7 linked regions of the Homo sapiens genome follow. The protein of the gene in region 3 interacts with the protein of the main gene of each other region in a pairwise test. Each region holds a gene or a part of one and is shown on either strand. Other genes may lie near its edges. The genes, in order: GRB10, ZHX1-C8orf76, PAK1, GIT2, PNKD, SYNCRIP and ZNF444.

Evidence for each region.
Region 1: the proteins of PAK1 (region 3) and GRB10 interact in binary tests that used the Homo sapiens proteins (3 or more experiments, as listed by UniProt).
Region 2: the proteins of PAK1 (region 3) and ZHX1-C8orf76 interact in binary tests that used the Homo sapiens proteins (3 or more experiments, as listed by UniProt).
Region 4: the proteins of PAK1 (region 3) and GIT2 interact in binary tests that used the Homo sapiens proteins (3 or more experiments, as listed by UniProt).
Region 5: the proteins of PAK1 (region 3) and PNKD interact in binary tests that used the Homo sapiens proteins (3 or more experiments, as listed by UniProt).
Region 6: the proteins of PAK1 (region 3) and SYNCRIP interact in binary tests that used the Homo sapiens proteins (3 or more experiments, as listed by UniProt).
Region 7: the proteins of PAK1 (region 3) and ZNF444 interact in binary tests that used the Homo sapiens proteins (3 or more experiments, as listed by UniProt).

Annotation. Positions count from the first base shown.
Region 1 is NC_000007.14:50,776,090-50,780,597, forward strand, and holds part of GRB10 (growth factor receptor-bound protein 10), read right to left. Parts: intron 1-4,508.
Region 2 is NC_000008.11:123,267,368-123,271,875, forward strand, and holds part of ZHX1-C8orf76 (zinc fingers and homeoboxes protein 1), read right to left. Parts: intron 20-4,508; 5' UTR 1-19.
Region 3 is NC_000011.10:77,463,646-77,468,153, forward strand, and holds part of PAK1 (serine/threonine-protein kinase PAK 1), read right to left. Parts: intron 1-4,508. UniProt on the Homo sapiens protein: Protein kinase involved in intracellular signaling pathways downstream of integrins and receptor-type kinases that plays an important role in cytoskeleton dynamics, in cell adhesion, migration, proliferation, apoptosis, mitosis, and in vesicle-mediated transport processes.
Region 4 is NC_000012.12:109,982,454-109,986,961, reverse strand, and holds part of GIT2 (ARF GTPase-activating protein GIT2), read left to right. Parts: intron 1-3,267; coding exon 3,268-3,354; intron 3,355-3,458; coding exon 3,459-3,589; intron 3,590-4,435; exon of another isoform or gene 4,436-4,508. UniProt on the Homo sapiens protein: GTPase-activating protein for ADP ribosylation factor family members, including ARF1.
Region 5 is NC_000002.12:218,335,844-218,340,351, reverse strand, and holds part of PNKD (probable thioesterase PNKD isoform 1 precursor), read right to left. Parts: intron 570-4,508; coding exon 454-569; intron 324-453; coding exon 211-323; intron 1-210. UniProt on the Homo sapiens protein: Probable thioesterase that may play a role in cellular detoxification processes; it likely acts on a yet-unknown alpha-hydroxythioester substrate.
Region 6 is NC_000006.12:85,632,509-85,637,016, reverse strand, and holds part of SYNCRIP (heterogeneous nuclear ribonucleoprotein Q), read left to right. Parts: coding exon 1-50; intron 51-4,508. UniProt on the Homo sapiens protein: Heterogenous nuclear ribonucleoprotein (hnRNP) implicated in mRNA processing mechanisms. Component of the CRD-mediated complex that promotes MYC mRNA stability.
Region 7 is NC_000019.10:56,147,260-56,151,767, forward strand, and holds part of ZNF444 (zinc finger protein 444), read left to right. Parts: intron 1-4,508. UniProt on the Homo sapiens protein: Transcriptional regulator. Binds to the 5'-flanking critical region of the SCARF1 promoter.

The sequences.
Region 1 (4,508 bases), on a different chromosome or scaffold from region 3:
TGGCTTCCTTCTATCCATACTAATCTCCTTATCAAAAGGTCACTTGGCCACACCCTTAGTGTTTTCTCCCAAACATGTTTTTACAACCTGGGCAAGCTAAAAATTTTCCATATCCTTAAATTCTGCTTCCTTTTCTTTTTTGGAAACAGGGTCTCATTCTGTCACGCAGGCTAGAGCGCAGCAGCAGAATCATGGCTCACTGTAGCCTTGACCTCCCAGACTCAAGTGATCTTCCCACTTCAGTCCCCTTGAGTAGCTGGGGCTAAGTGCACACCACCACACTCCGCTAATTTTTTTTTTTTTTTACTTTTAGTAGAGATAAGGTCTCATTATATTGCCCAGGCTGGTCTTGAACTCCTGAGCTTAAGCAATCCTCTCACCTTGGCCTCTCAAAGTGCTGGGATTACAGGCATGAGCCATAGTGCCCAGCCTCTGCTTCCCTTTGGATTATAAATTCCATTTTCAATTCATTTCTCTCACATTTTACTGTAAGCAATTAAGAGAAGTCATGCAGCATACTGAATACTATGCTCACGGATTTCTTCCACCAAATATCCTAGGTTGTCACTCTTAAATTCTGCCTTCCCCAAAGCCCTAGAGTATGGGCACAATTCAGCCAAGTTCTTTGCGCCTTTGTAGCAAGGACTGTCTTTCCTCCAGTTTCCAATAAGATATTCATTTCCATATACGACCACAGCAGAACGGGCTTTACTGTCTATAATACTACCAGCATTCTGATCACAGCCACTTAGAAGTTTCTAAGAAGACACTGGTTATCTCTACGGCTCTCCTCTTCTTCTGGGCCCTCACCAGAATCATTCTTAATGCTCTGTTCACAGAAATTTAGGCTTTTTCTAGCAAACACTTCCAAACTGTTCCATCCTCTACCCATTACCCAATTCCACTTTTCTTTTAAGTATTTGCTATAACAACACCCACTCTCAGTATCAATTTCTGTCTGTGCTGCTATAACAAAATCCACAGGTTAGGTAATTTATAAATAATAGAAATTTACTTCTCATGGTTCTGGAAGAGAGGAAGTCCAAGATCAAGGCACTGGGGTTCAGTGTCTGGTGAGGGCCTCTCTCTGCTTCCAAGATGGTGCCTTGTTGCCACACCCTCCAGAGGGGAACAAATGCTGTATCCTCATATGGTGGAAGAGCAGAAGAGAGCAAACCCATTCCCCCTCAGGCCCTTTTAAAAGGGCCCTAATCCCATCTATGTCCACTCTTATGACTTAAACACCTCCTAAAGGCCCCACCTCTTAATAACATCACGTTGGCCATTAGGTTTCAACACATGAATTTTGGGTGATACATTCAGACCACAGCAATCTGTATACACACACACACACACACACACACACACACCATTGCACATATCTGTAAATATACTAATTATAATTGAATTATATACTTCAAATTTAAATGAGTAAATTGTATGGTATGTGAATTATACCTCAATACAGCTTTTTTTTTTAAGAGAGGACTGTATGAAAAAACTAGCCCATAAAGATACATGCACACCTATGTTTATTGCAGCACTACTTACAAAAGCAAAGACATGGAACCAACCCAAATGCCCATTAATGATAGACTGGATAAAGAAAATGTGGTACATATACACCGTGGAATACTATGCAGCCACAAAAAGGAATGAGATCATGTCCTTTGCAGGGACATGGATGAAGCTGGAAGCCATCATCCTCAACAAACTAACACAGGAACAGAAAACCAAACACTGCATGTTCTCACTCATAAGTGGGAGCTAAACAATGAGAGCACATGGACACAGGGAGGGGAATAACACACACCAGGGCCTGTCAGGGAGGGGAGAGGGACTGAGGGGAGGGAAAACATCAGGACAAATAGTTAATGCTTGGGGGGCTTAAAATCTAGATGACAGGTTGATAGATGTAGCAAACCACCATGGTACACGTATACCTATGTAGCAAACCTGCACGTTCTACACATGTATCCCGGAACTAAAGAAAGAAAAAACTAGCCTAATGAAATAATCAGCACAAGAGGGGTTCTAACTCCACCCCGACCCCCCAAAATTTGGAACCACCATAGTCTAGCCATCTTCCTCTTAAAGTGTCATAATACATTGTGGCACACAAAATTTTCTGAAATGTTGTGCCATAAAGAAACCAACTTTATCTAATCCAAAGTTTCCTCACTTATTTGGCAATAAATTATTAGCTCCTGTAGTATCTAAAACCTTCAGGAAGCATTAAGTTGCCCAACATCACCACCAGCCTAGGAAGACTGTTAATGAAAGATGACAAAGGAATGGGTCCAAAGTCCCATGGAGCCCATCAATGCATTTACTGATCAACTAGGGCAGGCACAAATACAAACATTCAAAAATGTCTTTGCTATCCAAGGAAGAACTTTGGTGGTAGAATTTTTCAAAAGGTGGCATTAAGTAGAGGTGATCCACACAGTGGAGCCTTATACACAGAACAGACTCACAGTGCAAGCAAGACAAAAGCTGCTTTAATACCACCTACCCTGACAGGGAAATAATGGGACAACCCAACCCTACCTCCAAGGGTAGGGTCGGGCTAACGCTGACAGAAACAGGCAAGGGCCCCAGCCAGAAGCCCCACTGGGACATCTTTATTGCTTCTTTCTATGGCTTGGAGGCCTTCCAGGTTCCAGGCTGTGATGCTGAGACATGAAGGCACTGAGCAAGGACCTTGGAAGAAGTGGGGTGTTAGCATGCACAAGCTCAAAGCAGATACAATTCCTACATTCTTAAAAGAAGGCAGGTGGGGCTTCCAAATCCGCTCAAGATTCAAAAGGTTTCAAACCTTTCTAAAAGTGTTCTATCATCATAAACAAAAGAGAAACCACTAAATAAAATCCACAGGAATCCAAACAAATGTCAAAGCAGGACACTGTACAAATATTTGCCCCTGGAATAAAGTATGGACACATTTAAGAATGTCATTTACAACAATGTAGGGCTAATCACTAGAAAATTCTTGGTACAAAAATTCTTAGATTAAGTAATAGCATTATTAATAATAGTTCTTACCAGGTAAAGTGTCCTCTTCAGAGAATTTCTAGAGAAAAAGACACTAAAGTGAACACAGGGGGAAATGCATTAAGACCTTACTGCACAAAGTGTGGGCCACTGACCAACTGCAAGCATAACACCTGGGAGCTGGTCAGAAACCCAAAACCTCAGGTCCCAACCAAGACCAACTAAATTAGAAGCTGCATTTTATTATCAGCCCCAGGAGATTCCCATGCATATTAAAGTTTAAGTTGTGGTATTTTCAGACATTGTTAATATTTAACTTGTATCAGAACTGAAACGTGCCAGCTCCCTTTAAGAAAATAAATAAGCAAAATATATTAACATCACTATTTTATTGTTCAGTCAACACAGGCCATCCCTCTACTCACCCTCCCTTCCTACACAGATTTCATTATTTTCCATCTAAGTAAGGCAGGAACAGATGACGGAGACAGACTGGCTCCTCAAACACCTGTTGAGTGAATGACAGGCGGGGTCCCTTGTCAAAAGCCACCCAGAGCACTCCTTGCCATTCTCATCCCACTTGAGTGCTGAACAACTGCTCAGAATTACACAGCCATTGTTGGCAACGGCACATCACCAGTCTCAAGCCACCAGGACTACCTTGACAACACTCAGAAGCTGGCTCCCAGACACTGCACAGGAAAGGAAAAAAATTATTTGTAGGTGACTTACAGGTACCATTTACACATTTAGAATTTTCTTCCCTCACTAATATGAGATTTGAGCCTGAGGCATCTAGAGTTCAGCCCAGACTCTTCCAGCTGCCTTCAGGCAAGTCTCCACAGACCAGAAATGCCCCTGGAGAGATAGTCCTGGACCCCCTGACCGAGGAGGCAGAGAAAAAAAGGGAAGAAAGAAGCAAACGGGGCCAATAAATGCCTACTGGCCCCCCAATCCTAGTCACAGCTCAGCATTTTCTGGCCCCTTTAATTTAACCTCTGCCGGCCGTGAGAGGAACAAAGCCCATTCCACATGAAAACAGAAGAAATGTGTCTCCTGAACAAATCAGAATAAACCGTCATGGAAAGGGTTCCAGGGTTTGGGATGGGTTAGGACTTTGTGGATCATGCCCAGCCAGTGAATTCTGTGAAATATGAGAAAATATGGTCCATCACACCAGTTCTGCACGTGATGCATGGCCATGCCCACTACCAGATGTGCCAAGTTATTTAATCTGACAGAAGCAAAAGGCCCACATAAAGGCCTCTTTTGACATGTGCTCCCAGACCTCCTAGGGTCCACAGGACTCATACTGCCTCAAGGCCTCCCCTCATTCTGCCCTTGACCCTTCAGACAGGAGCTGCTAACTTTCTAACTGAATCACCAGAAGCCCCAGTAGTTACAAGGCCCAGAACACCACATCAGTTCTCAGACTTTATACTTGTAAGAATCACCTGGCATGCTTTACAAAGACAAAGAATTCCAGGTCCCAAGCCCAGAAAGTCAGTTTCGTA
Region 2 (4,508 bases), on a different chromosome or scaffold from region 3:
AGCAGCAGTCTGTCTTCTCCTACAAAAAAGTCATATTTTATTATTCTAGATATAATTTAGCCTTAGTCAGGAAATTTTTACAATTTAATGCCTTAGCTTTTAATAAATAAATGTAATTTTGAAAAAAAAAGTTTATTCCCTCATCAAAACTTTAAAAGAACCATTTAAATACCAATCCTAATATTGGTAGTAAACACAAAAACTACACATTAAAAAAACTCTATTTATATCATATAGAACAACTAAATAACTATTAGACCATTTTGAATAAAATTTCAAAACGTGAATATATGCCGTCTCTAGTGTGAAAATTGAGATGCAGAAATTGGGAGTTCTTTAAAATGAGTATACCGGCCGGGCGCGGTGGCTCACACCTGTAATCCCAGCACTTCGGGAGGCCAAGGCCGGCGGATCACCTGAGGTTGGGAGTTTGAGACCAGTCTGACCAACAAGGAGAAACCCCGTCTCTACTAAAAATACAAAATTAGCTGGGCGTGGTGGCGCATGCCTGTAATCCCAGCTACTCGGGAAGCTGAGGCAGGAGAATCGCTTGAACCGGGGAGGCAGAGGTTGCAGTGAGCCGAGATTGCGCCATTGCACCCCAGTCTGGGCAACAAGAGCGAAACTCTGACTCTAAATAAATAAATAAATAAATAAGTATACAAAGGTTATGAAGACAATTTAGTTAAACTAAGAAATGGGAGTAGTTGTATATGTTTATGTGTTAGTACATAAACCTAGTGATATTTGTATCCTAATTTATTATGTTAATCAGAATGGAGAGGATTATTAATGCTGACAACACAAGCCAAAACAAGTTAAACAAACTAGTAGTACTTGATCTACAAACATGGGGTTATCTAACAAAATGACTGGTGTTTAGCCATGTCGTTTTTGCCTGAAAGCTACTACCAAATGGCTTTACAATCAGTGCACTGTGAAGTATTAACATCATGCAATCAAATAAACAGAAAATAATTCTCTGAAAATTCAATTACTGTCCAAATATGTTGTTGTATATAATCTAGATCAGTTAAACCCATCAGAAAAGTTTAATAAAGCTACAATTGCTTTTCTTACTAGAACAGTCATAAATAACACTTTTGAAGGGTTAAAGCATTTTGGTTGTATTCTTTTTTTTTTGAGATGGAGTCTCACTGTGTCGCCCAGCTGGAGTGCAGTGGCGCAATATCGAATCACTGCAATCTCCGACTCCCTGGTTCAAGCGATTCTCCTGCCTCAGCCTCCCGAGTAGCTGGGATTACAGGCACACGCCACCACACCCAACTAATTTTTGTATTTTTAGTAGAGACAGGGTTTCACCATGTTGGCCAGGATGGTCTCTATCTCCTGAGCTCAAGTGATCTGCCCGCCTTGGCCTCCCAAAGTGCTGGGATTACAGGCATGATCCCTAACCGGCCTTTTGTTGTATTCTTTAAGCACTATTCTCTGTAAACTATAATGAATAAATATTAAGGAAGAGTATTTTCCCAATTAACCTTATTTTTTTATTCCTGCTACTATTACATACAAGTTTATGAAGAAACTTCTCACATCAAGAAATAATGTAAATACACCAGTCCTTTAGTAAAATACCTCTAGGTTAGGTTAAAACTTAGGCTGAATAAGTACACTATTTTCATGAAAAGCAAAAGAGCATTTTCCTGGTAGGCCCAGTGGAGCATCTTATTATCTCTGTAGCCTGGGACTCTACAGTTTCATTTCCTGGTATCTCCTTGTTCCGCCACTCGTTAGCCATCAATCTACAGGATGTGGACTAGAAGAGAAGATAGGAAACAGCTGCCAAAGAGGGAAGGTTATTTTCCAAAATGAATTATTAATACTTTAGGAATCTGGTAACCTACTTCAATCCATTCTTAAAATCACACAGTAATTGCAAGATATTTTACCGAATGAGTCTCTTGAGAAGAGCTGCCAAGACATGTAAAGGCACCAGGATACCAGAGGAGCAAAAATGAGCTCATCAGTGCTTTTGAATGAAAATCCTAGTTGCCTGATGTTATTTAAGTTCCTGATACTGGGATTACTTTAGAACATTTCTATCTAATTCAAAGTATTTTTCTTAATTTAGTATGAGTGAATTCCAAAAATTAAAGAGCTCATCTCAGCTATGTACATTATATAATAAAACAGAACAAGCTGTTCTGGTAGTAGATGGATTACAAAAAAAGACTGAGAGCTTGGAATTTGGAACAGACTGGGTTCAAATACAGCATGCCACTTACTAGCTGTGTGACTTTAGAAAAATGGCTTAGCCTATCTGTGCCTCAGCCCCATCATCTATAAATGGGACTGGTAATATTAATAGGATACTATTTACTTAATAGGGTTGTTGTGAGGATTGGAATAGGTAACACGTGTAAAGTTTCTGGAATATTCCTTGGTACTTAGAACACAATGAATGTTAGCAAAGAAATCTTTCTTTAAAATTTGCTAACTGTTGACAAGTGATAAAATACTTTAAGAATCTGGGTAACAACCAACCAACAAAATTTATTTGCCATTTCATACCTCTGAGCATATTAAATCATGCTGGAACAAGTTGGCTTCAAAAGGCAGATACTAATCAATCAAATTTAACCTCTCCCCCCACAAACTTTTTCTGACCTTAGCTTCAAAATAAATCATTACTGTATGACATATTTAAGGGGTATTTCATAGAACTAGCAAACATCTGATATAAGTAATTTTATCATAGTAACGAGGAGAAATTGTTCTCATGATCTTCCCCACTCCCAAGTATAGCCCATGTCTAGCAAAATTTTAACAAACTTCTTTTTAAGAATATTGATGGTAAAAGAGAATAAACTTAGAAGAAAAATATAATTATTAGTTTAGTGCTTAGAAATATCAGAACCTCCTATCTTCTTTCATTTCTCACTAAAAAACAAAAAAGGAAAAGACTTTTAAGAAGGGGAAAAAGGAAGTTAGAAATCTTGAGAAATAGGAAATCACCAAAATTTAATGAAAGAGTTATTTTATTTACAATAATATATGATATGGCTATGACTTCGATATTTTAATTTTGTTAAGATAAATTCTGATAATATTTTTTAAAATCTAAAACTAAGAACTGAAAATTAAAATCTTGCATTAAAAATGATTTATTTGGCTGAGTGCAGTGGCTCACACCTGTAATCCCAGCATGTTGGGAGGCCAAGGCAGAAGGATTGCTTGAGGCCAGGAGTTTGAGACCAGCTAGGGCAACACAGTAAGACCCTATCTCTACAAAAAAAAAAATTAAAAATTAGCCGGGCGTGGGTGACACATGACTGTAGTCCTAGCTACTCAAGAGGCTGAGGAGAAAGGATCGCTTGAGCACAGGAGTTTGAGGGTGCAGTGAGCCATGATCATGCCACTGCACTCCAGCCTGGGCCACAGAATGAGACCCCGTCTCAAAAAAAAAAAAAAAAAAATGTATTCAACTGGCTCCCTTGAATAAACATAATTCTTAAACTGCTCATATATACTTATTTTACAAAGTATATCATCACATTTGTTTAGACCAAAGGTATACAGTCTTACCTCTTAAGTTGGAAACTGATTGTATAAAATGCCAAGATTAAGTATCTTTTAAGATCAAAACCTGGCAACTACATACAAAGTTACATATTAATATTTACTTTAAGAATATCCTGTATAAAATGCAGATCTCCAAAATGTAAACTCAAATGTATATTCTGATTAATAATCTAAGTCAGCAACTTTAGTCATGCAAATCTGGTTATTGATGACTACAAATATATCAGAGCAACAAGGATACAATAAAATTTATCAATAATAGTATAGAAACATTGGCTCTTATTCTAAAGATAGTATCAGTTTTAAAAACAGAACTATAACTTACTTTTGAAACTACGTAGGATTATTTAAAAGGATTTTAAGTTCAAAAAATTTAGTCTTAACAGTAAATGTGCTTATCACAACATAAATAAATATTTATAATGATTTAAAAAATGTGTATTACTGGCTAGCACCATAAACAGTACAATAGATAATTCCAAAAATCTCTCTGAATAATTGCACTGACTATGATATTAGATTAAAAACTAGGTGCTGAACTTTCAACACTGTTTATTTAAGTAAAGTCTTTGGGCCCAAATCCACAATGCTGCAACACAAATAAAAGGGTTATTTCCTCAGCTACATTTGTGATCATTTTAATAATTTTAAAAGCATTTTCATTTAAGTATTAAGTTATAATTTACAGCAAACTAAGTCTCAAATATCACATTTTATGCTTAATTAGCATAAGAAATATAATACATCATAATATAACCTTTCCATCTTAATATAAAATATAATAATACAAAAGGGAGAAAAATCTTCAAAATGAACCACCTCTCCTATGCTATTAATTTCGCTAATAACTGTAAAACTTTGTCCCCAATTATTGAAAAAAAAAGAACTTACAATTATCATTAAAGGTGAAATAATTGCTACATCATGCATGAACTACCCCCCAAATCCGGTGAAATAATAAGCTT
Region 3 (4,508 bases):
TTCTAGCACTCTAGAGAGGAGAAGAGAGACTTTGGCAATTACTGTCTCCATCTATAAAATCAGACTTGATAATCCCCTCTCAGTCCCTTCGGATTAACTAGGATATTACACAGGGTAGCGTTTTGAAAGGTCTCTTCCTCCCACTCCAACTTCATCTCATACCATTTACTCTTGCTTCCTATACAACAGCCATAATTTTTTTTAGTTCCTCTATGTTGAGGTAAACCAGCATTATCCAACTGAAAGATACGGTTAGCCTTAAAGAAAAGCCACATATGTAATCTCAAATTTTCTAGTAGCCATATTTTAAAGTTTGTAAAGAGGTGAAATTAATTTTAAAATACATTTAACCCAATATATTCAAAATATTAACAATTCAACATATAACCAATATAAAAAGTTAATGAGTTATTTTACATTATTTTTTCAGTATTGTCTTCAAACTCTGGTATGTATTTTATTTACACTTACAGTGCATCTCTATGTGAATCAGTCAGTGTGCTCAACAGCCACACTGGCTAAGTAGCTACCATATTGAGCAGCACATCTCTAAACTTTTACCTACTCTCAGGGCCTTTGTGCATTTAAAATGTTCCCTCTGCCTGACATGCTTTTTCCCCCTCAGTGTTCTGCATGACTAAAATCTATTTATCATGCACATCTCAGTTTAAAAGCATCATTTCCTCAATGAGGTCTTTTCCTTATCACTCCAAAATTCTCTACATTAGTCCTTTATCTCTTTTGTAGGACTTATCAAAATCTGCAACTGTCCACTTGTATATCTACTTACTTTTCTCTGTATTACCCTCTGGAATGTAATCTTTGTAAGAGCAAGGACAAGGACCATGTCTGTATTATTTATGAGTGTATCCTTAGTACTAAGTACAATGCTTGGCACACAGGAAGAAATCAATAAATATGTGTAGTCTAATTAAGGAATAAATAGAAGCACTATAGAGCTGTACAGATGCTCCTTGACTTATGATTAGGTTACGACCTGATAAACCCAACTTACACTGAAATACTTTAAGTCAAAAATGCATTTAATACACCTAACATACCAAACATCGTAGCTCAGCCTACCCAACCTTAAACATACTCAGAACACTTACGTTCACCTACAGTTATGCAAAATCATCTAACACAGAGTCTATTTTTTAATAAAGTGATGAATATCTCATGTAATTTATTCAATACTGCACTGAAAGTGATTGGATGGGTATTCCAAGTATGGTTTCTACTGAATGCATATTGCTTTTACACCATCATAAAGTCGAAAAATCATTAAGTTGAACCCCTGTAAGTCAGGGACCAGCTGTATTGGATTGGTACATACATGAAAGAGTGTGTGTGTGTGTGTGTGTGTGTCTGTGTGTGTGTCTGTGTGTGTGTGAAGAATATACTCAGCAGCCATTCCTAACTGTCCTGGAACCTTTACCACATAGTCAACTAAGTCAATTATCCGGCAAGTGGCAATGGATAGTAAAAAAACGATTTTTTGAAAGAGTTAGAGGGAACTATAAATATATTTTACCATTCTCCTAGGAACCTACAATTTTTTAAAAAGTGCCACTGGTCAGGGCAGCACCCAAATGATCAGGAACAGGTGACCAGATTTGGAGACAGAAAATATGAATTAAAGATTCCAGTTTGTAACTTCCCAGCTACATAATCATGCCACTTAACTTCTGTTCATTTATAAAAATATGATGGCTAAAGAACAGAATTAAGTTAAATGAGACTCTATATAAAAGGGTTTTGAAAACAGTAAAGCACAAAAATTATATATATAATCCTATATATAATCTCTAGAAAGTCCAGGAAACTTGGACTTTTCAAGTCTATCACAATGGGCTTTCTCATTTTGCTCACCTGGTTCTTTATTTTTTTTTAAGTTACTTTACAAATTACATATGTAATTTATTAAATTAAGCAAAATCTATCCTGGATACCAAAAAAATCTCAGACTCTGGACTGGTGAGATAATTCCATATGAGAAAATAAGTGGGAGGGAATGTTATAAAATAGTAATTCTTGGCCGGGCAAAGTGGCTCATGCCTGTAATTCCAGCACGTTGGGAGGCTGAGGCGGGCAGTTCACTTGAGTCCAGCCTGGGCAACACGGCAAAACCCTGTCTCTACAAAAAATACAAAAATTAGCTGGGCTTAGTAGCATGCCCCTGTGGTCCCAGCTACTCGGAGACTAAAGTGAGACGATTGCTTGAGCCCGGGAGGGCAGCACTGCAGTGAGCTATGATGGAGCTACTGTACTCCAACCTGGATGACAGAGCAAGACCCTGTCTCAAAAAAATAAATAAATAAAATATTAATAGTAATTCTCTAACAGGTAATTGGAGAACCAAGAGCCCCTCCAACTATACCAAGTCCCTCTTTACCCATCCCCAAAACTGGCAATTTACATTTTGTTCCTGTAGCCCATTGGGAACTATTTCCATAGTGAAATACTGTTACTGATGGACTACATCCCAGTGTATCACAGAGAAAGGGTGAGGGCAGGGAGTAGGTGAGAAGGTTAAGAATCACTGTCGAAATATTCAAGCAAAGAAGTTGGCATCAAATTCAACACATTTATATGACAGCTAAGGAAAACTGAGTCTCAGGACGGTTAAGTGACTTGCTGTGGTTACACAGTAATAATTTTTAAAAATGTCTTCAAGGCCGGGCGAGGTGGCTCACGCCTGTAATCCCAGCACTTTGGGAGGCAGAAGCGGGCAGATCACAAGGTCAGGAGATTGAGACCATCCTGGCTAACACGGTGAAACCCTGTCTCTACTAAAAATACAAAAAATTAGCCGGGCATGGTGGCACGCACCTGTGGTCCCAGCTACTTGGGAGGCTGAGGCAGGGGAATGGCGTGAACCCGGGAGGCAGAGCTTGCGGTGAGCCGACATCGCATCACTGCACTCCAGCCTGGGCGACAGAGCAAGACTCCATCTCAAAAAAAAAAAAAAGTCTTCAAATGACAGCTTGATGTCTCTGCTCCTAAATTTCCTCATCTGTAAAATGAGTTAGCCAACATCAGTCTAGCACATTACAGCTTCCAAATTGTTGTGCATATATCCACAGAGCTTACCTGATTCCCTACCACACCGCAAAAGTCTAAGACGGCTATGGTGTAATAGAAAAAGCATGATGAACTAAACAATCATAAGAACCTGGCTTCAGATCTTAGCTGTGCTGTATAGCCTCAGCAAGTCAATTAACCTCTTTGTGTTTTCTTCTATCAAATGAATATAAAACAACACCTGTCCTAGCTAACCCAGGGGATTGTCCAAAGAATAAAGTCAGATAATATCAGTAAAAGTATTTTGTACATTATACAAAAGGCCCTTCATCATCTGGGCCCTGCCTCCTCTCTGCTCTCACGCCTCCCCACTTTACACCCTATCTTCTAAGCATACTAAACTACACAGGGCTCCCCAAACAGGCTCTCAAATCTTCTGCTCACATATTGCTCTCTCTTTCAAGAGGGTCCATCATCTCCCCTTTCTTCTCACCCCTCCCTGACTGTGCTTCGTTAACCCCTGATCATTTTTCAGAACCCATCTTAGATGTCACCTCCTTTAAGAATGCTTGCCAGGCCACCCCCATTTCAAGTGCAGCAGATGCCCTTCCTCTGTGTTCACATGGCACTTGCACTTATCTCCATATTTTTGTCATTTTTTGTCTCAATGTAGTGTAATTGTCTATGCACATGTCTGTTTCTCCCGGAAACTATAAACCCAAGGGTAGAGGCTATGATTCATCTGTTTATTCAGAACCTATGACAATGCCTGATGCATAATATGTATTTAGCAAATGAATGAACTTTAAATGGCAATAAAATATTACTTTTCATATAATACTTACATAAGACATTTATGCAAAACATTGTTAATATAAGGCAGTGCTTCTCAACTTTGCATATCAGAATCACCTATAAACCTTTCAAAATAGAGATGCCAAGGCAACTCTTTACATCTTCACAAGTAATTCAAGTGCATAGCCGAAATTAAAACCACTGCTACACACAATCATAGTCATAAAATTACAAACTACTCTACCTAACATCTATATAGCTCAGTATCTTACAATTCACTTTTACATATATTATTAATCTTCACAAGAATTCTGTAAGTTAGGTATTATTTCTTTCAAATGAACAAATAGAGATTTAAATAAGTGTCCAAGTAGCTCTTTGTCTAACTTCAAATTTTGTGCTCTTCCTTAAACCCTCCCTTGGTAAGTGCAGTAATACACAAATCAAGGGTTCCACCAGTGAGGAAGACATCAATCTTAGCTTTGTGGGAATCCAGGAGGAAATAAGGAAAGCTGGACCTTAAAGATATAGGCAGGCAGATGAGGGTGGAAGCCATGCATATACTGTCATTGTCATTTGCCATCCCAAAAGATTCAAAAGGCAGATTCTATAAATTAGAAAATGCTCTTGCCAGCCTCAGTTAGTACTTAACAGTCTGAAAGGGAAAGGGATATTGGAGAAGGCTGGAA
Region 4 (4,508 bases), on a different chromosome or scaffold from region 3:
TTTTTGAGACAGAGTCTCGCTCTGTAGTCCAGGCTGTAGTGCAATGGCATGATCTTGGCTCACTACAACCTCCGCCTCCCAGGTTCAAGTGATTCTCCTGCCTCAGCCTCCCAAGTAGCTGGGATTACAGGCACGTGCCACCAGGCCCAGCTAATCTTTTGGTTTTTTTTTGTTTGTTTGTTTGTTTGTTTGTTTTTGAGACGGAGTCTTGCTCTGTGGCCCAGGCTGGAGTGCAGTGGCGCAATCTTGGCTCACTTCAAGCTCCGCCTCCCGGGTTCATGCCATTCTCCTGCCTCAGCCTCCTGAGTAGCTGGGACTACAGGCGTCCGCCACCACACCCGGCTAATTTTTTTGTATTTTTAGTAGAGACGAGGTTTTACTGTGTTAACCAGGATGGTCCCGATTTCCTGACCTCGTGATCCGCCCACCTCGGCCTCCCAAAGTGCTGGGATTACAGGCGTAAGCCACCACGCCCGGCCATTTTTTGTATCTTTAGTAGAGACGGGGTTTCACCACGTTGGCCAGGCTGGTCTCGAACTCCTAACCTCATGATCCGCCTGTTTCAGCTTCCCAAAGTGCCGGGACTACAGGCCTGAGCCACTGCGCCCAGCCATGGTGGATTAACTTTTGATGTGCTACTGGATTTGGTTTGCTAATATTTTGTTAAGAGTTTTTTAAAAAATCTGTGTTCATCATGGATTTTGGCCTGAAGTTTTCCTTTTTTGTTGTGTCTTTGCCAGATTTTGGTATCAGGCTGATGTTGGCTTCACAGAATGAGTTAAGGAGGAGTCTCTCCTCTTTGATTGTTTGGAATAATTTTAGTAGGATGTTCTTCTTTGTATGTCTGGTAGAATTCAGCTGTGAATCTCTTGAACTGGGGAGACGAAGGTTGCAGTGAGCTGAGATCATGCCACGGCACTCCAGCCTAAACGACAGAGTCTCACTCTGTTGCCCAGGCTGGAGTGTCGTGGCACAATCATGGCTGACTGCACCCTCAACCTCCCTAGTCTCAAATGATTCTCCCACCTCAGCCTCTCAAGTGGCTGAGATCTCAGGCATGTGCCACCAAGCCTGGCTAGTGTGTGTGTGTGTGTGTTTTGTTTTTGTTTTTTTTAGATAGAGTCTCTGTTACCCAGGCTGGAGTGCAGTGGCACGATCTCGGCTCACTGCAACTTCCACCTCCTGGGTTTAAGCGATTCACCCGCCTCAGCCTCCTGAGTAGCTTGGATTACAGGTGCCCACCACCATGCCCGGCTAATTTTTTTTGTATTTTTAGTAGAGACAGGGTTTCACCATGTTGGCCAGGCTGGTCTTGAACTCCTGACCTCAAGTGATCTGCCTGCCTCGGCCTCCCAAAGTACTGGGATTACAGGCATGAGCCACCGCGCCTGGCCAGTTTTTGACTTTTTGGAGAGATGGGGTTTCACCATGTTGTCCATACTGGTCTCAAATTCTTGGGCTTAAGCAGTCTGCCTGCCTTGGCCTCCCAAAGTGCTGGGATTACAGGCGTGAGCCACCACATCTGGCCTTTTTTCCCCCCCCTTTTTTAATCCCCAGCAGAATCTGGCTGAAGAATTCAGAATTTGAAATTTTGCATAGAAATGCATATACTAGCTACTTCCATTGATTAATAAGACTTGGTATGTGTTGGGTTTTTTGTTTTTTGTTTTTTTTTCCTTGCCAGAGTTTTAAAAAATTAGGCACAGTGGCACATCCCTGTAATACTAGCTACTTGGGAGGCTGAGGTGGAAGGGTTGCTTGAGCCAAGGAGTTCAGTCCTGCCTGGGCAACATAACGAGACCCTGTGTTTAAAAAACAAAAAAACTATTTAAAAAATTAAACTTAGATGTTAGAGTAGATTTCTTCATTCCTGTGATAAGGGTTACTGCATCTTGGACAATTCTAGGTTAGATTTGAAGGAAGGCAGCTCATCTTCTGACTGTATAAGAGCTTTTCTGCAGTAGTACAGAATTCGGTATATCACGGGCCTTTTCCTACCCTGAAAGACTTTATTAAAGCATATTATACAGGCCAAGAATAATGTGGTAGAGAGGGTATTGTATAAGGCAGGATCCTGTAGCTTACACAGTGTAGAATTTGAAGTCCTAAAGCCCTAATTACAGTAACAACTAATAATAATAACTGTTATTATAGCATTTGTATTCTTTGAGCACTTTATTATATCACTAAATCCTTATAATAACCCTGTGAATAGGGCCAGGCACGGTAGCTCATGCCTGTAATCCCAACACTTTGGGAGGCCGAGGTGGGAGGATCACTTCAGCTCGTAAGTTCGAGATCAGCCTGGGCAACATAGTGAGACCTCATCTGTATTGAAAAATAAAAAGTTAGCAGGGCATGGTGGCCGGCGCCTGTAGTCCCAGCTGTTTGGGAGGCTGAGGTGGAAGGATTGCTTGAGCCCAGGATACTGAGGCTGCAGTGAGCCATGATCACTCCACTGCACTCCAGCCTGGATGACAGAGCAAGCGAGACCCTTTCTAAAAAGAAAAATGCCACCTTTTAAAATTTTTTTTATTTTTTATTTTTTTTGAGACAGGGTCTCGCTCTGTCACCAAGGCTGGAGTGCAGTGGCATGATCACAGCTCACTGCAGCCTCCACTGCCCAGGCTCAGGTGATCTTCCCACCTCAGCCTCCTTAGTAGCTGGGACTACAGGTGCGCATGCCACCACACCCAACTAATTTTTGTATTTTTTGTAGAGCCAGAGTCTTGCTATGTGGCCCAGGCTGGTCTCAAACCCCTGGGCTCAAGTGATCCTCCAACCTCAGCCCCCCAAAGTGCTGGGATTACAGGCATGAGCCACTGCATCTGGCCATTGTTGACATTTTTGAGATGAGGAAAGTGAGGTTCAGATTGCTTAAAGCCCTTTCTCCAGGCCACACAGCTTGAAGTGGGTATAGTTTGAAATTCAGGTCTGTCGTATGTCAGAGCCACGCATAGTCACCTCTTCACACAGTCCTGCCTCTCACTCAGGTTCTGGTTGTGCCACTTCTTAGATAAGTCATGCATTTGGGCAAGTCAGCCTTCACAGCCCTAGTTTCCTTATCAGTAAAGTGGCCTCACTCCACCTTACAGCCCAGGGACAGTTGTGACTGGCAAAGGAGAGACTGGTCCATGCACTTTACCGAGACAAATAAAGATTATGCGTTACTGATGTAACATATATTAAAATGGTCTATCAGCTGCCCTAGGACATCATTCTTTACACCTCTAACCACGATTCCTTTTTTGTTTCTGCGTTTTTCAGCAACTCCATTCGAGCGTGAGAACAGGGAATCTTGAAACCTGTTTGAGACTGTTATCTTTAGGAGCACAAGCCAACTTCTTTCATCCTGTAAGAAAACATGAATTGCTTCAGATATTGAAACTAAGTGAGTTGTGTTCATGTAGCCTTTATTTAATGTGCTCTTTTGCCTACTTTTTATTAATGATTCTTAGGAAAAAGGAAACACCCCACTCCATGTTGCCTCCAAAGCAGGGCAGATTTTACAGGCTGAATTATTGGCAGTATATGGAGCAGACCCAGGCACACAGGATTCTAGTGGGAAAACTCCCGTTGATTATGCAAGGTAAGAGACCTAGATTCTCGCTACTTCTCTCTGGGATTTTTTTGTTGGGTGTGATTCCTTGTTAAGTAGCTAAGTTGTATATGTTGATATTGAACCCCTTTAAAGATGTACGTTATTTTATTTTACAGATGAAGACATTTCAAATGCATATAAGCTCAGCCTGGCAAAGTTGAGGAAGGCTAGAATCATGAACCAGTGTGCTAAGCTTCCAGTCTTTTACTTGATCCTTTATAACACAGTGATGTTTGAGCTGTAGTCAGATTCCAAATCAAGTATCAAGAATTACAGAATGTACTCTTCTGTTTTTTAATACTCTTAGTTATTTCTTGAACTTAAAAGCAAATATATACATAGATATGTGATTAAACAAGTATAGTAAAAAGTTAATTGTAAGGTTTGGGTAGTAGACATCTAAGTGCTCACTCTAGGCCAGGCATGGTGGCTCACACCTGTAATCCCAGCACTTTGAGGGTCCAAGGCGGGTGGGTTACTTGAGGCCAGAAGTTCGAGATCAGCCTGGCCAGCATGCTGAAACCCTGTCTCTACTAAAAATACAAAAAAAAAAATTGGCTGGGCATGGTGGCAGGCACCTGTAATCCCGCTACCCGGGAGGCTGAGGCAGGAGAATCACTTAAACCTGGGAGGCAGAGGTTGCTGTGAGCCGAGACCATGCCACTGCACTCCAATCTGGGTAACAGGGCAAGACTCTGTCTCAAAAAAAAAAAAAAAAAAAAGTGCTCACTGTAAAATTATTTAAATTTTTCTTTATTAATAAAGTCCTTGAAAAATAAATCTATAGGTTAGTCTTGAATATCATTTAAATGGCCAAAGATCAGTCATCTTTCCTTCTTTTTCCAAAGTACTTTTATTAACTGTGAAGCACAATACTCTGTTCCACAGAGGATAAAATGGGTGAATA
Region 5 (4,508 bases), on a different chromosome or scaffold from region 3:
TGCATCCCCCACTCCTGCTCTCCCCTTCTGCCCAGCCATGCCCTGTACCCCCCTTCCCCAGGCTATGTGTGCGCATGTGCACGTGTGAACATGGAGCATATGGGACACATCCCACGGGCAGACGGACAAGGGTCAGCCCTCTCTAGCAAGGCGAAACTGCCAGTCCCCAAGGTGACTCCAGGCACCCCCTGCTCCCTGCCCTCCCCTCACCTGCACAGCCCGAGGGTCTGAAGGGTCCACAGCCACAGCCAGCTGGGCCTGGGTGTCGATGATGAGGTAGCTGTAGTTGTCCGAGAGGACAGGGATGGGAAGCACCTTCACTCCTGGGGACAGAGATGGGCTGTGGGCGGGGTAACAGGCAGGGAGCCCAGGGGCTGGGGTATGTGAAGGGGAGCAGGCGGGGAGGGTGGGGGCACAGAATGGGGGATGCTGGCCGGGGCAGTCAGAGCTCACCATTGAAGAGGCGGGGCTGGGTTTTCGAGTGGCCTTTAGGGTAGCGATTCCGAGCCCTGCGCAGCTGCTGTCGGTAGAAGAGGTACCCGAGCCAGGTGCGGGTGTACAGGCTGTACCTAGAGGGCGAGTGGGTGGCCTATGATTAGCCTTTTCTCCCTAGCTCCCCTAGACTCCTTCGTGATGCCTGCAGGCCCCACATCTCCATTCCTTTGGTGACCCTGTGAGCCAATGCAATTCCACTCTCACTTATTATGTGCCTACTGTTTGCCCTGCTTAGCACTCAGGACAAGATGGAGAATGAGACGGACACACCTAGAACTCAAAATCTATCAGGGAGACATGAACTGAGGAACTCACAGAAGAAAATTGGAGAGGCCAGGCGCAGTGGCTCACACCTGTAATCCCAGAACTTTGGGAGGCCGAGGTGGGCGGATCACCTGAGGTCAGGAGTTCGAGACCAGCCTGACTAACATGGCGAAACCCTGTCTCTACTAAAAATACAAAACTTAGTCGGGTGTGGTGGCACACGCTTGTAGTCCCAGCTACTCAGGAGGCTGAGGCAGGAGAATTGGGCATCGCACCACTGCACTGCAGCCCAGGCCAAAGAGTGAGACTCTGTCTAAAAAAAAAGAGAGACTTGGAGAGTGAGGGGTTTAATCTAGCCCAGGGTCTAGCACCTCTGATGAAGTGACATTTGCAGGGAAGAAGGAGTAGGAATTAGGAGGCTGAAATGAGGTAGAAAAAATATTTCAGAAAGAACAGTGGTGGTCAGACTTTAGCATGCATCCTAATCATCTGAAGAAGGTTGGGTACAGTGGCTCACACCTGTAATCCCAGCACCTTGGGAGGGAAGGAGAGAGGATCACTTGAGCCCAGGAGTTCGAGACCAGCCTGGGCAACATTGTGCCCTATAGGGTCTCTACACACACAAAAAAAAGAATAGCTGGGCGTGGTGGCACACGCCTGTGGTCCCAGCTACTCAGGTAGCTGAGGCAGGAGGATTGCTTGAGCCCGGGAGGGTGAAGCTGCAGTAAGCCATGATTGCACCACTGTACTCCAGCCTGGGTGACAAAACAAGACCCTGTCTCAAAAAAAAAAAAAAAAAAATCATCTGAGGCTGGGTGTGGTGTCTCACGCCTGTAATCCCAGCACTTTGGGAGGCCGAGGCAGGTGGATCATCTGAGGTCAGGAGTTCAAGACCAGCCTGACTAACATGGTGAAACCCCGTCTCTACTAAAAATACAAAAATTAGCCGGGTGTGGTGATGGGCACCTGTAATCCCAATTATCTTTTTTGTAGAGATGGGGTCTCAGTTTGTTGTCTAGGCTGGTCTCGAACTCCTGGGCTCAACAAATCCTCCTGCCTTGGCCTCCCAAAGTGTTAGGATTACAGGTGTGAGCCACCGTGTCCCACCTGAAATTCTTTTTTTTTTTTTTTTGAGACAGAGTCTCGCTCTGTTGCCCAGACTGGAGTGCAGTGGTGCAATCTCGGCTCACTGCAACCTCCACCTCCCAGGTTCAAGTGATTCTCCTGCCTCAGCCTCCCGAGTAGCTGGGATTACAGGCTCACACCACCATGCCCGGCAATTTTTTGTATTTTTAGTAGAGACAGGGTTTTGCCACGTTGGCCAGGCTGGTCTCAAACTCCTGACCTTAGGTGATCCGCCTGCCTCGGCCTTTCAAAGTGCTGGGATTACAGGTGTGAGCCACTGTGCCTGGCCAAGCCTGAAATTTTTGTTTGTTTGTTTGTTTTTGAGAGGGAGTCTCACTCTGTCGTCAGGCAGGGGTGCAGTGGTGCAATCTCAGCTCACTGCAACCTCTGCCTCCCAGGTTCAGGCGATTCTCCTGCCTCAGCCTCCTGAGTAGCTGGGACTAGAGGCGTGCACCACCACACCCAGCTAATTTTTGTATTTTTAATAGAGATGGGGTTTCACCATGTGGGCCAGGATGGTCTCGATCTCTTGACCTCGTGATTTGCCCACCTTGGCCTCCCAAAGTGCTGGGATTACAGGGGTGAGCCACCGTGCCCGACCCTGAAATTCTTAATGATTTTATCTTTGACCTTGTGTCTTGCAAGTGGAGCCTGATAGGACAGTGGGACATGCAGGGAGCAAGAGACACACACAGTGAGTGTGCTCCGTTCCTCGCTTATCATACCTATACAGAGTCTGCAATGCCCATGAGCACACAAATCTGGGGGACACACAACGCATGGGAGTTCAACAAGACTCAAAGCAAGTACAAGGCGAGTGCACACCTATGACTGACCCAAGAGGCCAAGCTTTCAGTTCAAACTAGAACGTGCTTCAAGTGCACAAAGACAGAGGTGTTCTAAGAAACACGAATGACCAAGGAACTCTGCTGCATCCTTTCTTGCTTTTGTGTTATCCACCTATTTATGCTGCAAATAGCGATATAGAAAGGAAAGGGAAGATAGGGTAACCAATCCATCCTTTTCCTTTCCATCCTTCCTTATTAACTAGCAAGCCAACAGTGCTGGCAGAATGTGCACGTATTAAGAATTGAAGGCCGGGCGCGGTGGCTCATGCCTGTAATCTCAGAACTTTGGGAGGCCAAGGCAGGTGGATCACATGGTCAGGAGTTCAAGACCAGCCTGGCCAAGATAGTGAAACCCCATCTCTACTAAAACTACAAAAATTAGCTGGGCGTGGTGGCAGGCGCCTGTAATCCTAGCTACTTGGGAGGCTGAGGTTGTAGTAAGCCGAGATCTCACCACTGCACTCCAGCCTGGGCGACAGAGTGAGACTCCATCTCAATAAAAAAAAAGAAAAGAATTGAAGGCTGGGTGCAGTGGCACACACCTGTAATCCCAGCTCTTTGGAAGGCAGAGGCTGGTAGATCACTTGAGGTCAGGAATTGGAGACCAGCCTGGCCAACATGGTAAAACCCCATCTCTGCTAAAAATACAAAAATTAACAGGGTGTGGTGGTGGGCGCCTGTAATCCCAGCTACTTGGGAGGCTGAGGCAGGAGAATCACTTGAACCTGGGAGGCGGAGGTTGCGGTGAGCCAAGAAGATCACACCATTGCACTCCAGCCTGGGCAACAAGAGTGAAACTCTGTCTGAAAAAAAAAAAAAAAAAAAAAAAAAGAATTGAAGGCCAGGTGTGGTGACTCACTCCTGTAATCCCAGCACTTTCGGAGGTGGTGATGGAAGAAGTGCTTGAGCCCAGGATTTTGAGACCAGACTGGGCAACATGGCGAGACCCTGTCTCTACTAAAAATGCAAAAATTAGGCAGGCATGGTGGCATGCACTTGTGGTCCCAGCTACTTGGGAGGCTGAGGTGGGAGGATCACTTGAACCCAGGAGGTCAAGGCTGCAGTGAGCCATGTTTGCACCACTGCACTCCAGTCTGAGTGACAGAGGAGACCCTCTCCTGGTAAGAACTAAATACACATCCATGTATAAGCTAAGAAATATTAATTATGTCGTTTCTGTGATTCTACAGGAGTTAAATGTCCTTATATTTGTATTTAAAACAGGCATTGCACAATATTAAGCAAATGGTAAAATTCCTGCTAATAATTTAAATGCTTCTTACTTAGAATGACATTAAATAGCAAATTAAAAACATCACAGGTCAAAATAGAGATTGTAGAAGAAAAAAAGCTTCATATTTTAGTACTTTTAATGGCTATTTTTTCCAAACTTTTTTTTTTTTTTTGAGATGGAGTCTCACTCTGTCACCGTGCTGGAGTGCAGTGGCACGATCTTGGCTCACTGCAACCTCTGCCTCCCGGGTTCAAGTGATTCTCTTGCCTCAGCCTCCCGAGTAGCTGGGATTACAGGCACCCACCACCACGCCTGGCTAATTTTTGTACTTTTAGTAGAGACAGGGTTTCACCATGTTGGCCAAGATGGTCTCAATCTCTTGACCTCATGATCAACCCGCCTTGGCCTCCCAAAGTGCTGGGATTACAGACATGAGCCACCACGCCTGGCTGACCCTAAGTCTCTACAAGGATTGACCGTGTATGTGGGAGCAGGGGCAGCCGCTCTTCAGACCCCTAAGGGGAGAGCTAGCTGATTTGTCT
Region 6 (4,508 bases), on a different chromosome or scaffold from region 3:
CGTTTGTCACTTTTTGTACAAAAGAAGCAGCTCAGGAGGCTGTTAAACTGGTAAGTTGTCCTTTTTTCCCCTTCAGTTTTCACGTTCACTGTCTTTAATATCAAGTTTTTTTCTTAGTGTGCCTAAGAGTTTACCAAACATTTTTTGAAGTACTGATTTAGGCAGGTTTTTTTTTTCCCACATCACTGTGCAAGCATTGTAGTGTTATTCTTTGCATGTATAGTTGATAGGATTCAGCATCTAAAAGGCGGCATGGTAGAATTCCTAGCAATTGGTTCTTATAAACATCTGGCTTAGTGACGTTTTTGTGTGTTTGTTTAAATTTATAGGAATGTGAAAAGATTAAGAAAAGTAACTGTGGTAAGAGCTCTCATACTTCCTGGCCATACCTGAGCCATCTCTTTTTCTTAAATAATTCACAAAAGACATTGTGATACATTTCTAGTTGATGAAACAAAAGATTTTATGGTGAGTGGCAATGTTTGATTTAAAAATACCAGATGTTAGGTAAGGACCTGGTAATCTTTCCAACTTTTTTAAAAAGGAAATTTTTCTTTTTTCTTTTCTTTTTTTTTTGAGACCAAGTTTCTCTCTCTTGCCCAGGCTGAAGTGGCATGATTTCGGCTCACTGCAACCTCCACCCCTCAGGTTCAAGTGATTCTCCTGCCTCAGCCTCCCGAGTAGCTAGGATTATAGGCGCCTGCCACCACGCTCAGGCTAATTTTTATATTTTTAGTAGAGATGGGGTTTCGCCATGTTGGCCAGGCTGGTCTCGAACTCCTGACCTCCGGTGATCCACTCGCTTCGGCCTCCCAAAGTCCTGGGATTTTAGACGTGAGCCACCACGCCTGGCTAGAAAGAAATTTTAATATTTTAAATTATAGTTTATGTAAGTCCTTTAAACTAGTTTTATTAAGTTCTGTGACAGAAGTGGTTTCTGCATTTTATAGTTGAAGAGTTGGGGGCTAATTTAAACCCATAGAATGTATCAAGCAACACGACTGGGGAGAACTTTTGTACAAGATAGCTCACTATGCCATGTTTGTTAAATTTGCTTTATCTGGCTTACGTATCCTGTGGGTAATTCCAGACAAACTTAAAATCTTCAGACTCATTTTTTTTTCCCTCCCTCCTGAGTTTTACCCCTTCCTTTACCATGAGGTTTATCACTTTAAGCAAGCCTTAAAGAGAAAAATAAAACTCATAAGTCTTCCTTTTCTTTTTTTTTTTTTTTTTTTTTTTGGGAGATAGAATCTCACTCTGTCACCTAGACAGCAGGAGTGCCATGGTGCGATCTTGGCTCACTGCAACCTCCGCCTCCCAGGTTCAAGCGATTCTCCTGCCTCAGCCTCTCCGGTAGCTGGGATTACAGGCATTTATCACCACACCTGGCTAAATTTTGTATTTTTAGTAGAGACAGGGTTTCACCATGTTGGCCAGGCTGGTCATGAACTCTTGACCTCAGAAGATATGCCTGCCTCAGCCCCGCAAAGTGCTGGGATTGCAGACGTGTGCCACTGCACCCGGCCAAGTCTTCCTTTTCTATGTTGTGTGAATATTCCCCACTGGTTTGCATAATTGAGTATGATGGAAGTTAAACAGTACAAAATTATGTTACTTGAAAGAATATAAGCCTTTACAAAGAGAATTTGAGAATTTAGATATTTTCAAATCATGTCTGATTTTTCTCTTCATAAAAGAGTGCTTTGTGTTTTAGAGGGAATTCAGATTTACTGGTAACCTTTGAGTTGTCAAAATTTTAGTTTCAGCAGTTCAATTTGAGGGGAGGGGCATTTTAGAGCTCTAGAAAGAGGTACCTTAGAAATCCTTTAGTTTGTTTTTATGATTTGTTTTTTGAGACAAAGTCTCTGTCACCCACGCTGGAGTGTGTGGGCATGATCTTGGCTCACTGTAATCTCTGCCTCCTGGGCTCAGGCAATTCTCCTGCCTCAGCCACCCGAGTAGCTGGGATAATAGGCGCGTACCACCACACCTGACTAATTTTTGTATATTTGGTAGAGATGGGGTTATGTTGGCCAGGCCGGTCTTGAACTCCAGACCTCAAGTAATCTGCCCGCCTTGGCCTCCCAAAGTGCTGGGATGACAGGCATGAGCCACTGTGCCTGGCAGGTTGGTCTTGAACTCATGGTCTCAAGCAGTCCTCCTACCTCGGCTTCCCAAAGTGCAAGGATTACTGGCATGAGCCACCTTGCCTGTCCCAAAATCCTTTAATCTCCTATAAAAGAGTAGAATATTTTTGCCAAGTAGCAATAAAGTAGCAGTAAGTGAAAATGCAGAATGATCCAGTAAGCAATGAGGTATCATAACTACAGAAAGCTAATACAGTGGGCTCTCTCTACTGTGGGTCCTGCATTCACAGTTTCAGCTAGCTGAGGATTGAAGATACTCCCAAAAAACCCAATAAAAAAAAAAAACAACACACCAGTGTATGAGAGAATGTTCGTAGGTTATGTGCAAACACTATGCTATTTAAGAGAGTTGAGCATTCATGGATTTTGGTATGGGTTCCTGGAATCAGTCCCCCGTATGTGCTGAGGGACCACTGCAGAATTTAGCTAGTGGTGTCATCCATTTTTTAACATTATGAAAAAGAATCATTAAACTGACATCGTAGGTTACCTAATTCTTGCCGTCAAAATGTACCAATTATGGTAGGTGACCACTATAACTTATTTATAGATGTTTTCCAGAAACTTTACAGTAAAGATACATCATTAGAGGAAGATGGTTTATAATCCATTAGTAACAGTGATTTCGAGTGCCAGTAGACACTAGGAAATGTTTCCATTTGTACAATTGCCTTGTTTAATAAATACGTTAAATTATAAAATTGCATTGCTGTAGGTTGCTTAGAATATAGTCTTATTAATATAGTTTTTAAATATAATGGAGAAACTTCTATAGATAAGCATTCTTTTTGATTGGCGTAGGAATTAACCCTTGTCCTAAAACTTTCTACATTTCTTTCTGGGTTTCTCTGTTGTGATTTGAATCCTTTTCTGGGGGCATAATTATTTTGTACTATCTAATTAATAGGAGACTTTGCATTTTGTTGTCTTTTAAAAGATACTTTTGGCAGGGTGTGGTTGCTCACACCTGTAGTCCCAGCACTTTGGTAGGCTGAGGTGCAAGGATTGATTGAAACCAGCCTGGGAAACATAGACCCCATCTGTACCAAAAAGTAACAGATTAGCCAGGCAGCGTGCACCTGTGGTCCCAGGAGGTCAAGGCTGCAATGACCTGTGATCATGCCACTGCACTCCAGCCTGGGCAACAGAGACCCTGTCTCAAAAAACCAAAAAGGGGGAAAAAAAAAATTTCCAATGGTAGGTATTGGTATACAGCCAGTAGGATATATTGGTCATACCATCATTTGCTTTTTTTGACTTTTTAGTAAGTTTTTTTGAAACGGAGTCTCCCTCTGTTGCCCAGGCTGGGGTGCAGTGGTGTGATCTCAACTCACTGCAACCTCTGCCTTCTGGGTTCAAGTGATTCTTCTGTTTCAGCCCCCTGAGTAGCTGGGATTACAGGTGCACACCACCATGCCCTACTGATTTTTGTATTTTTAGTAGAGATGGGGTTTCACCCTGTTGGCCAGGCTGGTCTCAAACTCCTGACCCCAGTCTCGGCCTCGGCTTCCCAAAGTGCTGGGAGTACAGGTGTGAGCCACCACACCCAGCCTACTTTTAAGTAAATTGTTTATTTTATTTATTTATTTATTTATTTATTTATTTGTTTTTGAGATGGAGTCTCACTCTGTTGCCCAGGCTGGAGTGCAGTGGTGCAATCTCGGCTCACTGCAAGCTCTGCCTCCCGGGTTCACGCCATTCTCCTGCCTCAGCCTCCTGAGTAGCTGGTACTACAGGCACCCACCACCACACCCAGCTAATTTTTTTTGTATTTTTTTAGTAGAGACAGGGTTTCACCGTGTTAGCCAGGATGGTCTCGATCTCTTGACCTTGTGATTCACCCGCCTTGGCTTCCCAAAGTGCTGGGATTACAGGTGTGAGCCACCGCGCCCGGCCTTAAGTAAACGGTTTTAATTATTATTACTGTTTTCGGAGACAGGTTGTCACTCTGTTGCCCTTGCTGGAGTGCAGTGTCATGATCAATGCTCACTAACCTTGAACTCCCGGGCTTACGTGATCCTCCTGCCTCAGCTTCCTCAGCAGCTAGGACTATGAGGGCACCACCTTGCTAGGCTAATTTTTAAACTTGTAGAGGTGGTGTCTCACTATGTTGTCCAGGCTAGTCTTGAACTCTTGGCCTCAAGCAGTCTTACTGCCTTGGCTTCCCAAATTGCTGGGATTACAGGCATGAGCCACTGCGCCTGGCCATTGTTTACTTTTTTTTTAAAAGGATGCTTTACTGTGGGTAGGATCTGGTAGATTTGCTTTAGCACAACAAAGAACTAGATTTTAGAGAAAGTGAAGTAATTGAAACATTCTAGAGAAAATACAAATCTCAAGTTTTTTTGGATGTTTTTT
Region 7 (4,508 bases), on a different chromosome or scaffold from region 3:
AAGCCACCAGGAAGCCCAGGGAGGAGCACCACTGAACCCCTGAAAACCAGTGTGACTCGCGGTGGGGAGGCTGCGGTACAGGCTGCGGTACAGCGTGGAGGGACAGTCCACGTGCGGCACCCTCCATCCCCACACCAGCTGCAAGTCAGGAGGGCCCCAAGACCCTGGCATACTTGCGAGTTCTCTAGGACTCACAGCCGTGTTCACGGTCACGGCTTATCAGAGAAGGACGTGCTGGAAGCAGCTGGGAAGAAGGCCACGAAGGCTCCAGGGAGCGCAGTTACCAGCTGTCCTCTCCCCGCACCCCGCCCGCACGCAGGGGGTCTTGCCGGCCAGGAATTCTCCTCAGACCGTGGTGTCCTGGGTTCTTACTGGGGACTCCTCCCCGTTCTGTGTGGCTGACCTCAGCCTCCCGCCCCCTGAAAGTCAAGGATACCCCCTGGTCCAAACTCTACCCCAAATTCATCTTGCTTTTGGGCTGGCCTGAGTCCCCCGGGGCAGGCAGACCCTCCTTATCATGCGTGAGGCTCCAAGGGCTCAGAGATGACTTCCCAGGGGCAGAGGGCAAAGCCAGGCCTCTCTGGGCAGGTTTGGTTTCTTGACCACACAGCAGGCAAGGGCCGACTCACGTTCTGGGTGAAGTCTTGGTGCACAGCCACACCCACCCACTCATGTCACCTGGGGCTGACACTTGCCACCGTGATGACCACAGAGGGCCCGAGGAGCTGGAAGTGTTGACTGCCTGGCCCCGTCAGGGAAGTTGCCAGCCTGGCTTAGAGTCCTGTCGGGGGATGTGTTATGTGAGCTGCACATGCCATCTTAAGTGTTCTAGTCAGCACGTTAAAAAAAGGCAAATTTACTTCATGGACCCCAATGTGTTCAAAATACCATCCTTTCAGTAGTGGCACTCTCCCATGGCTGGTGGCTGCTGTGTGGGGCCTGGGTGATGAGCGGTGGGCAGCCACGCAGAGACCTCTGAGAAGAGTGGTCCAGGCCACGAGAGCAGCCAGTGCAAAGGCCCTGAGCCACCTCGAGCGGCACAGGGGCCCTGAGTGAGGGGGTGTTTGCGGCCAGGCCTGAGTCCCCAGTGGCAGGAGGGTGAAGAGTCAGAGCAGTCGCGTGTTCCTCATAAGTGCGTACCGAGTGCCTGCTGGGTGCTGAGATGTAGCAGCAGAGAGGGGGCATCTCGGTGAGGCAAAGCGAGCAAAGCCTTCAGTCCATGGCAGCCGGGCGGCCTTCCTTCCTTCCAGAGGGAGCAGCTCCCGTCAAGGCTGCCAGTGGCCTCATCCGTCTCCCTTCTCATGCGGCCCGACCAGCCCCCAGACACTCCCCCCTCTTATTGTCTGGGATACAGCTCGCCCCTCCTCTGCTCCTGCCTCCTGGCACCTCTGTGCTGGCTCTGGCTTCTCTATCCTCGCCCTCCTTCCGGGTCATTGTTCCCAAAAGTGGGTTGTAACAAATCACAAACGCAGCGGCTTACAAATCACAAACGCAGCGGCTTAGAAATCACACAAGTCTGTTACAGTTCTGGAGGTCAGAAGTCCAAAATGGTTTGGTCTCATGGCCCAAAATCGAGGTGTCTGCAGGGCCACGTCCCTTCTCAAGTCTCCAAAATCAAGGTGTCATCTGCAGAGCCACGTCCCTTCTCAAGGCTCTAGGAGAGAATCCGTTTCCGGCCTTTTCCAGCTCCTAGAGGCTGCCCGCATTCCTCGGCTCATGGCCCTTCCTCCGTCCTCAGAGTGCTGCACTCCGACCTCTGCTTCCATCCCCCATCACTCCTCCGACCTTGACCTCTGCTTCCATCCCCATCACTCCTCCGACCTTGACCTCTGCTTCCATCCCCCATCACTCCTCTGACCTTGACCTCTGCTTCCATCCCCATCACTCCTCCGACCTTGACCTCTGCTTTCATCCCCATCACTCCTCCGACCTTGACCTCTGCTTCCATCCCCCATCACTCCTCTGACCTTGACCTCTGCTTCCATCCCCCATCACTCCTCCGACCTTGACCTCTGCTTTCATCCCCATCACTCCTCCGACCTTGACCTCTGCTTCCATCCCCCATCACTCCTCTGACCTTGACCTCTGCTTCCATCCCCCATCACTCCTCTGACCTTGACCTCTGCTTCCATCCCCCATCACTCCTCTGACCTTGACCTCTGCTTCCATCCCCCATCACTCCTCTGACCTTGACCCACTTAGGTCCTGTGGTCACTTATTTATTTATTTATTTATTTTACTTTAAGTTCTGGGATACATGTGCTGAACGTGCAGGTTTGTTACATGTGCCATGAAGGTTTGCTGCACATACCAACCTGTCATCTAGGTTTTAAGCCCCACATGCCTTAGGTGTTTGTCCTAATGCTCTCCCTCCCCTTCCCCCACCCCCCGACAGGCCCTGGTGTGTGATGTTCTCCTCCCTGTGTCCATGTGTTCTCATTGTTCAACTCCCACTTCTGAGTGAGAACACATGGTGTTTGGTTTTCTGTTCCTGTGTTAGTTTGCCAAGGATGATGGCGTCCAGTTCATCCATGTCCCTGCAAAGGACATGAACTCATTCTTTTTCATTGGTGCATAGTATTCCATGGTGTACTGTGGTCACGTCTTAGGTCACCTGTGATGACATTCGGCCCGTCAGGATAGTTCAGGAGAGTTTCCCCATGTCAGTGCTTAACTCCCTCCCATCCACAGAGTCCTTGTTGCCCTGAGACAGCAGATGACAGGTTCTGGGGATCAGACCGTGTACATCTTTGGGGCCATTATTCTGTCTGCCACAGAGGCGAGGTGAATGCAAGGTGAAGTGGGGGTGGAACAGAACCAACGTGGAATCTGTGAGCCTCGGGGTTTCGCCCTTTCCAGTTTCCATGACTCCTCAGAACAGGACCTGGCACATGGGTGCTGTCTAGGTAGATTTCAGCCACTGTTACCACTCTGAGCTCATGCCATCTGTTTTGTTGGCATTAAAATGTTCTTTTAGGAAAAGATGGTAAAAGTAGGTGGTGGTTATTGTTGCTTTTAATGTATATATCTTGCAAAATAAAAAAAAATCTTCCATTCGGGGATGCAGTGAGAGTTCTGTTGGTTCAGTGAATCTAAAAGTCGGGAAATCACCAGGCTCCAGGCCGTCGGGACTCTCCTGCGTTCTCTGCTTGCTCCGAGGCGAACCTCTCACTGTGGCTCTGGGATGTCTTTAGCATCTCTCTTGTATCTGTTACTCTCTCTTTTTAATAAGGGCAGATCTCAGGTTCAGAGCCTTCTCCTATCAGTGTCCACACAGACGGGAATAACACTGCCGTGAGTGATGGAATTTCCCATGACCTCTCTCTCTGGCACATGATACTGGCTTTCCATTTCCAGCAATGATACAACATGGTCTTAAGTCAGTGTTATTTTAGTTTTAGGTAAAAGTAAAGAAGAGTAATAAGAGCCTGGGCGATAGCCATTGTAGCTGACGGTGGTGTATAGACAGCTGACATCTGGGGGCGCTGCTGTGGATTGGGGTTTCTTGGCATCTGGTCTGTGGGAGCTGACGGTGACGCATAGACAGCTGACATCTGGGGGCGCTGCTGTGGATTGGGGTTTCTTGGCATCTGGTCTGTGGGAGCTGACGGTGGCGCATAGACAGCTGACATCTGGGGGCGCTGCTGTGGATTGGGGTTTCTTGGCATCTGGTCTGTGGGAGCTGACGGTGGCGTATAGACAGCTGACATCTGGGGGCGCTGCTGTGGATTGGGGTTTCTTGGCATCTGGTCTGTGGGAGCTGACGGTGGCACATAGACAGCTGACATCTGGGGGCGCTGCTGTGGATTGGGGTTTCTTGGCATCTGGTCTGTGGGAGCTGACGGTGGCGCATAGACAGCTGACATCTGGGGGCGCTGCTGTGGATTGGGGTTTCTTGGCATCTGGTCTGTGGGAGCTGACGGTGACGCATAGACAGCTGACATCTGGGGGCGCTGCTGTGGATTGGGGTTTCTTGGCATCTGGTCTGTGGGAGCTGACGGTGGCGCATAGACAGCTGACATCTGGAGGCGCTGCTGTGGATTGGGGTTTCTTGGCATCTGGTCTGTGGGAGCTGACGGTGGCGCATAGACAGCTGACATCTGGGGGCGCTGCTGTGGATTGGGGTTTCTTGGCATCTGGTCTGTGGGAGCTGACGGTGGCGCATAGACAGCTGACATCTGGGGGCGCTGCTGTGGATTGGGGTTTCTTGGCATCTGGTCTGTGGGAGCTGACGGTGGCGTATAGACAGCTGACATCTGGGGGCGCTGCTGTGGATTGGGGTTTCTTGGCATCTGGTCTGTGGGAGCTGACGGTGGCGTATAGACAGCTGACATCTGGGGGCGCTGCTGTGGATTGGGGTTTCTTGGCATCTGGTCTGTGGGAGCTGACGGTGGTGTATAGACAGCTGACATCTGGGGGCGCTGCTGTGCATTGGGGTTTCTTGGCATCTGGTCTGTGGGAGCTGACGGTGGTGTATAGACAGCTGACATCTGGGGGCATCTAGTGGG